Linked DNA regions of Homo sapiens: all the other regions are linked to region 3. The links come from fine-mapping of genetic effects on gene expression. A gene starts in region 3. Each other region holds a variant in brackets. All regions are shown on one strand. Distances are between the middles of the regions.

Region 1 (4,247 bases), 78 kb after region 3:
GGTGAGGTGTGTTTTTAAAAGACCTTTAGTCCATTCTACTTTTCTTGAAGACGGAGGACCATAAGGGATATAAAGGTTTCACTGAATACTAAGAGCCTGAAAAACTGCTTGGCTGATTTTACTAATAAAGGCTCACCTGTTATCAGACTGTATTGAGGTGGGAAGGCTAAACTGAGGAATTATGTCTGACAGAAGGGAAGAAATGACTGCGGTGGCCTTCTCAGACCCTATAGGAAAGGCCTCTACCTATCCAGTGAAAGTGTCTACCTAGACTAAGAGGTATTTTAGTTATCTGACTCAGGGCATGTTGAGTAAAGCTAATTTGCCAGTCCTGGGCGGGGCAAATCCTCGAGCTTGATGTGTAGGGAAGGGAGGGGGGCCTGAATAATCCCTGAGGAGTAGTAGAATAGCAGATGGAACACTGAGAAGTTATTTCCTTGAGGATAGATTTCCACAATGGAAAGGAAATGAGAGGTTCTAAGAGGCGAGTTAGTGGCTTGTACTATAGCATAACCTGCCTTTGCTGGTGTGTGGTGATTAGGCCTGGTGGAACCGCCATCAATAAATCAAGCGTGATCAGGGTGAGGAACAGGAAAGAAGGAAATTTGGGGAAATGGGGTGAATGTCAGGTGGATCAGAGAGATACAGTAATGGGGGTCAGGTGTGGTATCAGGAATAATGTGAGAGGCCGGATTGAAGTCTGGGCCAGGAACAACGGTAATTGTGGGAGACTCAACAAAGAGTGAGTATACCTGAAGGAGCCGGGAAGCAGAAAGCATATGCGTCAGGTATGAGGAAGAAAATAGATTTTGGAAGTTATGAGAACTGTAGAGAGTGAGTTGAGCATAGTTTGTGATTTTGAGGGCCTCTAAAAGTATTAAAGCAGTGGCAGCCACTGCATGCAGACATGAGGGCTAGGCTAAAACAGTAAGGTCAAGTTGTTTGGACAGAAAGGCTACAGGGTGTGGTCCTGGCTCTTGTGTAAGAATTCTGACCATGCTAACCATGCCTAGGAAGGAAAGGAGTTGTTGTTTTGTAGAAGGTGCTTGAGTTTGAGAGATCAGTCGGACCCAATTGGCAGGGAGAGCACATGTGTTTTTATGAGAATTATGTCGAGATAGGTAACAGATGAGGAAGAAATTTGGGCTTGATTGAAGTAATGGGGGCTGTCTGTGAAGCTTTGTGGCAGTACAGCCTAGGTAATTTGCTGAGCTTGATGGGTGTCAGGGTCAGTCCAAGTGAAAGCGAAGAGAGGCTGGGATTAAGGGTGCAAAGGAATAGTAAAGAAAGCATGTTTGAGATCTAGAACAGAATAATGGGTTGTAGAGGCAGGTATTGAGGATAGGAGAGTATATAGGTTTGGCACCATGGAGTGGCTAGGCAAAACAATTTGGTTGATAAGGCACAGATCCTGAACTAACTTGTAAGGCTTGTCTGGTTTTAGGACAGGTAAAATGGGGGAATTGTAAGGAGAGTTTATAGGCTTTAAAAGGCCATGCTGTAGCAGGCTTTAATCTTTTTAAAGCGTGCTGCGGGATGGGATATTGGCGTTGAGTGGGGTAAGGGTGATTAGGTTTTAATGAGATGGTAAGGGGT[A/G]CATGATCGGTCGCCAAGGAGGGAGTAGAGGTATCTTATACTTGTGGGTTAAGGTGGGGGGATACAAGAGGAGGACGCAAAGGAGGCTTTGGATTGGAAAGAAGGGCGGCAATGAGATATAGCTGTAGTCCAGGAATAGTCAGGGAAGCAGATAATTTAGTTAAAGTGTCTCAGCCTAATAAGGGAACTGGGCAGGTGGGGATAACTAAAAAGGAGTGCTTAAAAGAGTACTGTCTAAGTTGGCACCAGAGTTGGGGAGTTTTAAGAGGTTTAGAAGCCTGGCCATCAATACCCACAACAGTTATGGAGGCAAGGGAAACAGGCCCTTGAAAAGAAGGTAATGTGGAGTGGGTAGCCTCCGTATTGATTAAGAAGGGGACGGACTTACCTTCCACTGTGAGAGTTACCCAAAGCTCGGTGTCCGTGATGGTCTACGGGGCTTCCGAGGCAATCGGGCAGCATCAGTCTTCAGCCACTAAGCCGAGAAGGAGTCGGTCAGAAAGCCTTGGGCCAGAGTTCCAGGGGCTCTGGGAGTGTCTGCCAGGTGAGTTGAACAGTCCGATTTCCAGTGGGGTCCCGCAAAGATGGGACACGGCTTAGGAGGAATCCTGGGCTGCAGGCATTCCTTGGCCTGGTGGTCAGATAGATTTCTGGCACTTGTAGCAAGCTCCTGGGGGAGGAGGTTCTGGAGGAACGCCTGGCTGCTGCGGTTCAGGCGTTTGGAAGTTCTTGTGTGCTGGAGATGTGGCTGGGGTTTGTCTCACAGTGGAGGCAAGGAATTGCAACTTTTTTCTATTATTGTACACCTTGAAGGCGAGGTTAATTAAATCCTGTTGTGGGGTTTGAGGGCCGGAATTTAATTTTTGGAGTTTTATTTAATGTCGGGAGCAGATTGGGTAATAAAATGTATTTTGAGAATAAGACGGCCTTTTGACCTTTTAGGGTCTAGGGCTGTAAAGAGTCTCAGGGTTGCTGCCAAACGAGCAATGAACTGGGCTGGGTTTTTATATTTGATGAAAAACAGCCTAAACACTATCTCATTTGGGATAAAGAAAAAGGAGCATTAATGTTGACTATACCTTTGGCTCCAGCCACCTTTTTAAGAATAAATTGCTGGGAAGGTGGACTAGGGCTAGTCACAGAACGAAACTGTAAGCCAGACCAGGTGTGAGGAGGGGAAGCGATCAAAAGATTACAGGGTGGAGGAGCGGAGGCTGAGGAAGAATTGGGACCTAGCTTGGGCTGGAGAGGAGGGGAGAGGTCAGATGGGTCTGTAGAAAAGGAAGATTAGAAAGACTCAGCGATGCTTGGGGTTGGGACTGAGGGGACAGGCGGGAGGGAAAGAAGGAAGATTTGGGACGAGTTGCACTGGGCACAGAGACTAGGAAGGGACTGATGTGTAAAAGAATGCCTGGACGTCAGGCACCTCAGACCATTTGCCCATTTTATGACAAGAATTATTTAGATCTTGTAGGATGGAAAAATTGAAAGTGCCGTTTTCCAGCTATTTGGAACTACTGTCGAGTTTGTATTGGGGTCAAGCGGCATTGCAGAAGAAAATAAGGCATTTAGGTTTTAGGTCAGGTGTAAGCTGAAGAGGTTTTAAGTTCTTGAGCACACAGGCTAAGGGAGAAGAAGGAGGAATGGAGGGTGGAAGGTTGCCCATACTGAAGGAAGCAAACCCAGAGAAAAGAGAGCGTAGAGACACGGAGGGAAGGGGTTTGGGGGTTCTTGTCCCCTAGAAAAGCGGGACTTGCTGCTAAGGGTGAAGGAGAAGGGGTTGAGGGGTACTTGCCCCTGCCCCAGGAAAGGCAGAGAAGGGGGTAGAGACAAGGAGAGAAGGGCTTGGGCTACTTACCCTGTCCCCGGAAAAGCAGAGAAGGGGTAGAGACAAGGAGAGAAGGGGTTGGGGTACTTGCCCTGTCCCCGGAAAAGCAGAGAAGGGGTAGAGACAAGCAGAGAAGGGGTAGAGACAAGGAGAGAAGGGGTTGGGGTACTTGCCCTGTCCCCGGAAAAGCAGGGAAGGGGTAGAGACAAGCAGAGAAGGGGTAGAGACAAGGAGAGAAGGGGTTGGGGTACTTGCCCTGTCCCCGGAAAAGCAGAGAAGGGGTAGAGATGAGGAGAGAAGGGGTTGGGGTACTTACCCTGTCCCCGGAAAAGCAGGGAAGGGGTAGAGACAAGGAGAGAAGGGGTTGGGGTACTTGCCCCTTCCCCAGAAAAGCGGGACTTGCCGCTAAGGGTGAAGGACTGAGGCAGGCGTCCCTGCGTGGTCTGACACCCTTGAAACGTGGGTGTATAATCAGAGAGGTGTCCCTGCAATGATTAAACACCAAGAGAAGGCTGCCTTCCCAGTCCGTGACCGGTGCCGGAGTTTTGGGTCCACAGATAAAACGTGTCTCTTTTGTCTCTACCAGAAAATGGAAGGAATTGAAATTAAGAGAAGGGAGAGATTGAAGTGTAGCGCCAAGATTGAAAGGAGAAAGAGGTTGAGGGATAGTGAGGGAAGTTGGAGAAGAGAGTAAAAAGAGGCCACTTACCGGATTTGAAATTGGTGAGATGTTTCTTGGGCTGGTCGGTCTGAGGACCTGAGGTCATAGGTGGATCTTTCTCACGGAGCAAAGAGCAGAAGGACGGGGGATTGATCTCCCAAG
Region 2 (4,247 bases), 37 kb after region 3:
GATTTGGTAGATCAAATGAGTAATGACTGTAATATTTGCTACAATTAGTTTGGCTTTTAGTGATCACCTAACATATTCCTTCTCCCAGTTTATAGCAAATGATATACCTAAAATAGCCTTTAAATCTGTGTGTATATGTATTTTTAGATTTTCTAAAAATTACAGATATCTTTGAGAATCGGAGAAAAGCTGTGTATCCTCTTTCTAGTAAAGTACCCATACAAACATTGTTATGCTTTTTTTCGTTTCGTTTTTGTTTTTTTGTTTTGTTTTTGAGACAGGGTCTTGCTGTGTCAACCAGGCTAGAGTGCAGTGGTGTGATCTCAGCTCACCGCAACCTCCACCTCCTGGCCTCAAAGCAGTTCTCCTGCCTCAACTTCCTGAGTAGCTAGGACTACAGGCATGTGCCACCAAGCTCGGCTAATTTTTAAATTTTTTTGTTGAGATGAGGTCTCACTATATTGCCCAGGCTGGTTTCAAGCTCCTGGGCTCAAGCCATCCCCCAGCCCTGACCTCCCAAGGTGCTGGGATTACAGATGTGAGTCACTGTGCTCAGCCCATACAATTTTACATACACTTAAGGAGTCCACACACCTCCCATGCCTCCTTAAGCTTATGCATGGACCCCAGAATAAGGTTTTCAGGATCCCAATTATTCAAATCTGAGAGATCTCTGAATTTCTTACTTCGTAAGTCATGCTTTACTTTGCTATGATTTTTTTCACTTAGCCCCAGGAATATCAATACGAAAGACACAGGATAAATCAGGAATGGGAAATTGTAAGTTGATAGTGGGATTATGTTAAGGGACAAATTTAACAGTTTTTAAACTCTTTATGAGATTTGTCTGTCTTTTGGATTACTTTACATTGGAAATTATTGCTTTACAGATACTTCATGTTTTATAATACTACTTTCAGAGATTATCGTGATGCTTATTCAGTCATTTTTTAAAACCCTAAACCCTTTCTTTTTCTTCAGATGTGGCACCATTTATTGAGTTTCTGAAGGCCATACAAGATGGAACAATAGTTTTAATGGGAACATACGATGATGGAGCAACCAAGTATGTAAACTTTACAGAACTTTTTGGAACTATAATTTGTAATTATAAAAGCAATACATTTTCATTAAAAAAAAATCTGTAACATAGAGCAAAGTAATCAAACTACCAGGTAAACACAACTAACAATTTTTGTTTTTACTTTGCCTCCTTCCTGGTTTTATATGTAAATGTTTATCACACATATATTGTCATGAAATTAGAATCACATCATATGTAACATTTTTTATACTTTTATGTTTTGTTTTTTAACATTCTGAAATTGTTTTTCCTAGCATTAATATTCTTCAATAGCATTTTTATGGTTCATCAGCAGTTATGGGCTCACCTTTAAAGTTTCCCTATTATTATGTCATTAGGGTAAATTTCAAGAAATGGAGTTAATTGTCAAAGATACAGGTGTGCTATATTTTAAATAATTTTAATATATAGTAGTTTTATAACTTTTTCTTAAAATAGTATATGTTGTAAAAATTTGGAAAATTATAGAAAAGCGCAAAGAGACCAAGTTCCAGTCCATCTCACTACCCAGTGTAAACATTGATGATATTTTAGTTTCTATTCCAGATGACTTAAGACACATTTTTTGGCATTAAATATTTAGAATGCTAGTATTTATAGCATATCTCTTCACTTACGTGGTGAATATTTCCCCTTATTATTAAATATTCTTTATAAAAAATTGTTTATGCCTGCCTAGTCTGGTTTTTAAAATGTCATGATTTATAACCTGTTTAATGGGTTGCCTATTGCTGGACCCAGACTAGTTCCAATTTGCATACTTAGCACAATAGACTATCTTAGAAATGTTTGAACAGTCCATGTCTATGTCTTTAAGATAGACTTCTTTTTTTTAAAGTGGAAATGATTAATTAAAGGATGTGCATGTTTTTAAAAATGGATTTTAAAAATTTTTTTACCAATTTTATATTTTTCTCAGAAGTTCCATGGCACCAATTGTTAATTTTTTTAAGTTTCAATTTTAAGAGTTTGAAAAGGTATCTTATTTTAATATGCCTTTATTATTGAGATTGGATTTTTTTCACAAGTGGTTTTTTTTTCTTTTGCCTTTTTATGTAAATTGTCTTTTGACCATTCGAGTTGGCCTATCTTGACTTGTAAGACCCCTTCACGTTTTAAGGATATTAACCATTTCTAATGTAAAAAGAAATGTATTTATTGTACATTATTTGCTTTTAATTTTGTTAGTGTAGGGTGCTTTTTGAATTTTAGAATTTTAGACTAATGCCTATATAGTCTATGTATTTTTCTATCACTCTCCTTGTATACTTGAGAAGTATTTTTCCACCTCCAGGTTAGATATTTAGTAGATTTTCTCTTCCAGTGATTTCACTGTTGTCATGTATTTTTAAAAACCCATTTGTAATTTCCCCATGACACACAATGCCTATGTTCTTATGTAGATTTGGCTTTATCTCTGGAATTTCTGTTCTGTTCCATT[CA/A]CTTGACCTGTTTATCTCTGTTCCAAAAAGACACTATTTCAATTATTTTAAAATTGTTTTATAAAAGTAATTGTACTTCATGCCTCTCTGGTTGAGATTAAATCCCCTTTAATGTTCTTCTTTCTAGAAAAAAATAATTTTTTCTCTGACTTTTCTTCAGATGACTTATCAAGGATAAAAAACATCCTTTATAGATTTTAATTGACAGAGCTTTAATACTACAAGATTTATAGATTTTATAGATTTTAATTGACAGAGCCTTAATACTACAAGATTTATACAGAAATTTGTATTTTTATGTATTGATTTTTATAAATGTATTATTTTATAGCTACATTATCACAGATTTACATGAAAACAGTGATACTTTATAAATGGTTGTAAGCTGAAGTAATTTCATTGACATTGTGCGTTTTATCTGGTTCAACTAAGAATATATTAAATCCATAAATTGAAGGTTAACATAAAACTCGCCTATTCAAGCATTTTCATCTACCTAAATAGAATGAAACAGGATGTAATTAGGCTCTCATCAAAAAACAGGTAACTTGCTATTTGCTTTTGCTGAGAGAATAGGCTATTACGTGTAAAATTTGAAGTTTTAACATTAAAAAGAAAAGGCCCCACTTTTCTGACTTGACAAACATGACCTCCGTTTTTCACCAGATTATTTTGTTATACCTGATGGGAATCAAAATTGCTCCCCTTAACCTGCTAATATGCTAATAATAAATTATAGCCACAACTAAGAACTAGGGGAGGAATGATGTTTACTCTTCAACTGCTATTTTTTGGTGCCCATTAAATGCACCAAAAGCAGCTTTGGAAGAGAGTTCAACCTCTAGGGCAAAAGGAAAAATCTAAACTTTAATTTCTTTACGTTTGGTCACTTGGTCAATATATGATTCATCTGTGAATTTAAATGAATTGAGTTGTATTAGTTTGGGGCACACGAATTTATATTTCAAATATTTCCTTTTCCTAAATACCAGTAAAAGAAATTGTAAGCATCATATCTTTTATACTGAAATGGACAACATCCTTAAGAAAGGCAATCTACATCTAATATATATATAACCCTTTTATCTTGGCAGGTGTCTAATTGTGGCACATTTGCAGTGATTTACCAGTTGTGTTATATACCCTCTCTTATATATGAATAGAAATTCTGCTTACTGCTGCTGATGTATTATGGCTTTTCCTTATTTAAGGCCATTGAATTTTACCTCGTTTTCTTCCACTTATACTCAAGAAAGTTAAGTGCGTACACTGAATGTCCCTGCTCTTTCCAAGAGAGAAAGTTGGGTGGCATGTTAACCAGAGAAAGCAGGACCCAGCTGACTCACTCACTCTCTCTCTCTCGTCGTCTCTGATCCTAGTTTCTCTTAATCATGATGAGCCTGCTTTGCAGTGCTATGAACTTCAGCAGATTGACTAGGACTGATCTCCATCACATTATTTCCCAGAGTGTGTTTGGTAGAACCCCTGTCCTTTACAAGTACATATAATGGTCAAAGAAGTTTGAGGATGGTACCTTATATTTTGCCCCTTTTCGGGATTCACAATGAAAGGCTCTGAAGTTCTGCCCTAAAGAAACATCTTTTCCTTTGTTAATCATGGTGTTTCTTGATTCTGTGAAGCCCATTTAAAAAACAAGATAGAGAAAAACTTACATCTAAGAAAACTTAACACTTCAGGGAGTACAGTTATCTAATGATACC
Region 3 (4,247 bases):
TCCTTACTCGTTTATAGGTGTAAGAACTGGCTGATTAACAGGAGTCCTAAAGAAGTGATTTACCAATGTTAAAAAAATTGAAACCCATATTAAGAAATATAATTTCTACTGTATCCAGGACATAGACACACAGACACTCACCCACACATGATGCTGTACAAATGTTTCATGAAGAATACTTATCCTGAATTTATGCTTTGAACTGTTTTTTTTTTCTATTTTTCAGTGAATCAACAGCAACAAAATGTTGGTTGTGACCCATTGTTATTAATTTCATTACCTACCAAAGGGTTCTAAGCTATATCTTATGGTCAGTGGAGAATAGGCTACTAACACATTAAACTTTATGCACAGGAATTGTTTCAGGTGTGGTGCTATAAGAATATGTCACATGTAATTTCCAATCTGGTTGGCTCGGTTACAGAGCAGATTGCTCTTTCAGAAATACACCGTGACCTCCCTACTCAAGAGGCTTCATAAACTCTTTCAGTGAGACATAGCAGTCTAGGAGAGGCATGTGTACAGTAAGTGTTATGATTTTTTGGTACTATAATAAGCAAAGTGCCTTTTTGTTTATTTGGAGCTACATGAAGCTAGGCCGGAATTCCAGCTTCATAACTTACTATCTTGTATTTTTGAGCAAGATATTTAAACTCAGTTTTGGAGTCTTAGTTTTTTGATTTAAGTAATACACAAATAGCATAATATTGGCACATGGAAGACAATGAGAATTCATTTCATGCTTTCTCCCCTGATCACGGATCACAAACTCCAGAATTCATAGTTACTATTAGTTTGTGTGTTTTATATTTTTGGAGGAAAGCTAAAATTTGGTAGATTATTAATTCTATATTAACACACTATAGTCAAACCCTATTTTTAAATGCAATTTAATTTCTGCAACCACTGATGATCCCAATATTCTGTCAAATACTAGGTAACAGTTATTCATTATTTTAGAATATGGATCTGAATTATGAAATAATTTTGCATTCTAAGGTCTTATGTAGTAAGATTTGGATTAACTTCCCAATTATCAACACAATTGTAGGAAATCTCCTGAGAAAAAATATTTCTAACGATTGTGTATCTTATAATTTAAAAAATAAACGTGACTTGGAAAATGCAAGGACTACTGTTCTTCTTGGGTGGTGCATTAAAGGTGATCAGAATTCTAATGACGCTGGACAGTAGGATTTTCAGAATCAGTTTCCTAGGGTTCAAGAAGTCAAACGGCAAATAACCCAAGGTCCTTGGTTGATCTGACCATCTCAGCTATCTCAAGATATATAAGATGACCTAACTGGCGCATCTCTAGGATGGGTGGGTCATTTAAAATGTTCTGCCCTTGAGGCTGGGATTTTGTGCGTGTAAACGGTGGGGAGACGGCGGTGACACATTTTTCTCCCTCCCGTAGTGCCACCCGGCGCAGGGCCGCTGCGGCGGCGGCAGCTCCCACGTGGCAAGTTCAGATTGTGCAGCGCCTGGCCGGGGGCGGTGGGCGGGACCGCAGACCCCTCCCTCCGCTCTCCGGCCCTTCCCTCTGGCCGGCCCGGGCGCCCGCTTGGTCCTCCACCGCCAGGGGGCGGGCGCGGCTTCCCGGCGGCGGGGGCCCATTGGTCGCGGCCGGGAAGCGTGGGAGGAGGCCCAGCGGCGAGCTGGCTTTCTCCTGGCCACTTGCCGGGGTGAGGGGCAGCCGGAGGAGTCCGAGAGGAAGCGGAGGCGCGAGCTGGAGGCGGCGGCTCCCGTCGGCCTCCGGCAGGACTGAGCGCTGGGAGGCCGGAAGGCGGGCGCGCGCGGCGGAGAGGCGGGCGGGAGGCCGGTGAGACGGCTGGGAGGCGGACGGAGCCGGGGCTCAGGTTCGGGGAGGGATGGAGGAGGCCGGGGAAGCCAGACGCCCACCTACGACTTCAGCCTCCGCGCACTGCGGTCACCGGCCGGGGGCGGGCCCCGGGCCCGGCCGCGTTGTCACGGCGTGTCCGGACGTTGGAGAGGGCGCAGGCGGGACTGGGGTCCCGGAGAGCCGCTGGCCGGGGTTCCCGGCCGCCGCCCCGGCGTGGGCATCCCCGGGCTCCGCGGAGACGGGGCGGCGTCTGCACCTGGCGCTGGCACTCGGCGCCCCGGCCTGGGGCGGGCACCTGGGTCGCATCTTCCCCAGGTTGGCTGTGGCTCGCGCCCCTGCAGCGTGTAGGCTGAGAGCTCCGAGAGGTGGGGACGGAGTTGGGTGTTGCATTCCAACTCCATAGGGGGCCGTTTTGACTCACTTGTAAAGTTTTAGTGTCGCCTATACTAGAGGTACTTTTGGTTTTTTACAAGCTATCCAGCCCTTTGATGTTTGGTGTCTCTTCTTTTTCTTCCTATTTGTTTGCTACTGCTCTCACAGCTCGGGACCACGGATGATGATTAGTGGCCCTAGATCTGAATATGTGAGTGACGGATTGGCAATTTGAGATTGAGAGCTCCAGCTGTTTTACTTGTGGGAGGAGCGGTTTCCATCATCCTCTACCTTTTTTTTTTTTAAGAAAAAATATTATTGCCTGTAATATAGAACTGCTATCTAATTGATAGGACTTTTCCTTTGTTTCTTTTTGGCCAACATGGTGAAACCTCGTCTCTACTAAAAAATAAAAAAATTAGCCAGGTGTATGTATCCATATATATATATGTATGTATGTATCCATATATATGTATGTATCCATATATATGTATGTATCCATATATATGTATGTATCCATATATATGTATGTATGTATCCATATATATGTATGTATCCGTATATATGTATGTATCCATGTATCCATATATATGTATGTATCCATATATATATGGATACAATGACATAAATAATATTAGATTGCTTACTGTGTACTAGGCACTGCCAAATGGTTTCGTGTGCTCATTTATTCTCACAACAGCTCAGTGAATAAGTCCCTTTATCTTTTCTAGTTTTACAGATGGAAATATGAACTCCCGAGAGTAAAGGTCAATGCTGATAGCAGAGGCCCCGACCCCTTGGACTTGTGGCCAATTTGCAGTTACGTTTTCTTAAGTCTTGGGAACCGTTACTATTAGTCATACAGTATCTTACAGAGTACCAGCAGATCTCTATTGAATTTAGAAAATAAAAGTTAATCACTTACTGAAAGCCATTTAACAAGAAATTGGCAGAATCAGCAAATCAGCATCCGGTTTTGGTCACTTCATCGACCTGTACCTCTTTCTAGAGGCTACTAGTAGTCTCTTGTGTTTCTTGGCTGTTTACCAATAAAGTCACAAGGTTTTCAGTTTTATACAGGTATTAGAAGCTTTGTTTCACAGATTCTTGTAATGTTTTCTCAACTCAATAAAGACTAGCATTTCTTCATAGGAAGAAATAAGAAGAGTTGGAGCCAATAAAAGGAGTTCAGTCCAGCAGTTCTCAACCTGAGGACCTCTCTGAATTACCAATGGGAACTTTGTAAGAGGGACACAGGACAGGTTCCTCAAAATCCTCATTGTAAGGGGCTTCTGTTTCAAAAGGGAGTAAAAATAAGACACTACTGGCTTAAAGTGACTTTAAAAATAAACTTAATGGATGTTTTATTACAATTACAGATTTTTAATGTGGATTGCTGCCTTAAGCATTGTCAACTAATCTTTCATAATTTATGAAGATACATTAAAAAGGAAAAGGAAATTGGAAAAGACAGCCAAAAGGCTAAGAGGCTATGGAATGGCAAAAAGTAATGTTCCCTGAGGGGGTATCAGAAGACTCATATATTTTCCACCATATATTTTAGGTTTTGAACGATTCATTTTTCAAAAATTTTTATACTCTTAAAAATACTGGAGTGCCTACCATGTACCAGTAATTGTAGATATCATGGATACTATGAATAAGACAGCCTGGGCACTCACAAAGCTACTTTATTTTCTCTAAAGCAGGGAATCTTTTTTATTTTTATTTTTATGCCCATTTCTTAAAGCTGAAAGGTGCAAGACCCAAATAGCAAAAGATTTTTATGTTAGCGCTGAGCTAGATAGATTTTTGTGCGACCTTGGTATAATAGCAAAAGTTTGTCTTGAATTTAGTCCAGAAGCGTCTCTGTTCTTGGGATCAGATGATCAGGATTTGAAGCATTGATTCTGTATTTAGTTATTTCAAGAGTGGCATTGACTAAATTACTTAATATCATGCAGTCCTTTTTAATCTGATTGAGTAGACTGAACCAGGTAATTTCCCAAAATCTTTGAACTTTTAAAAGGTT

The links. PIP is the estimated chance that this variant, and not a neighbour inherited with it, causes the effect.
Region 1: its variant is the best candidate, but not a certain one, in a credible set for the expression of FAM3C in whole blood (INTERVAL, PIP 0.76).
Region 2: its variant is the best candidate, but not a certain one, in a credible set for the expression of FAM3C in whole blood (INTERVAL, PIP 0.75).

What each region holds. Positions count from the first base shown.
Region 1 is chr7:121,315,852-121,320,098 of GRCh38, reverse strand. No RefSeq gene overlaps it. Among named protein-coding and RNA genes, the nearest start is that of WNT16, 11 kb to the left of the region's middle. The variant A/G (reference allele first, on the strand shown) is at 1,597.
Region 2 is chr7:121,356,862-121,361,108 of GRCh38, reverse strand. FAM3C (FAM3 metabolism regulating signaling molecule C) reads left to right here. Exons shown (of 10, transcript NM_014888.3): 8 at 982-1,066. Among named protein-coding and RNA genes, the nearest start is that of WNT16, 30 kb to the right of the region's middle. The variant CA/A (reference allele first, on the strand shown) is at 2,526.
Region 3 is chr7:121,393,737-121,397,983 of GRCh38, reverse strand. It overlaps FAM3C (FAM3 metabolism regulating signaling molecule C), which reads left to right and starts at 1,676. Exons shown (of 10, transcript NM_014888.3): 1 at 1,676-1,822. RefSeq lists silencers at 1,312-1,371, 1,412-2,241 and enhancers at 1,469-2,053, 2,054-2,639.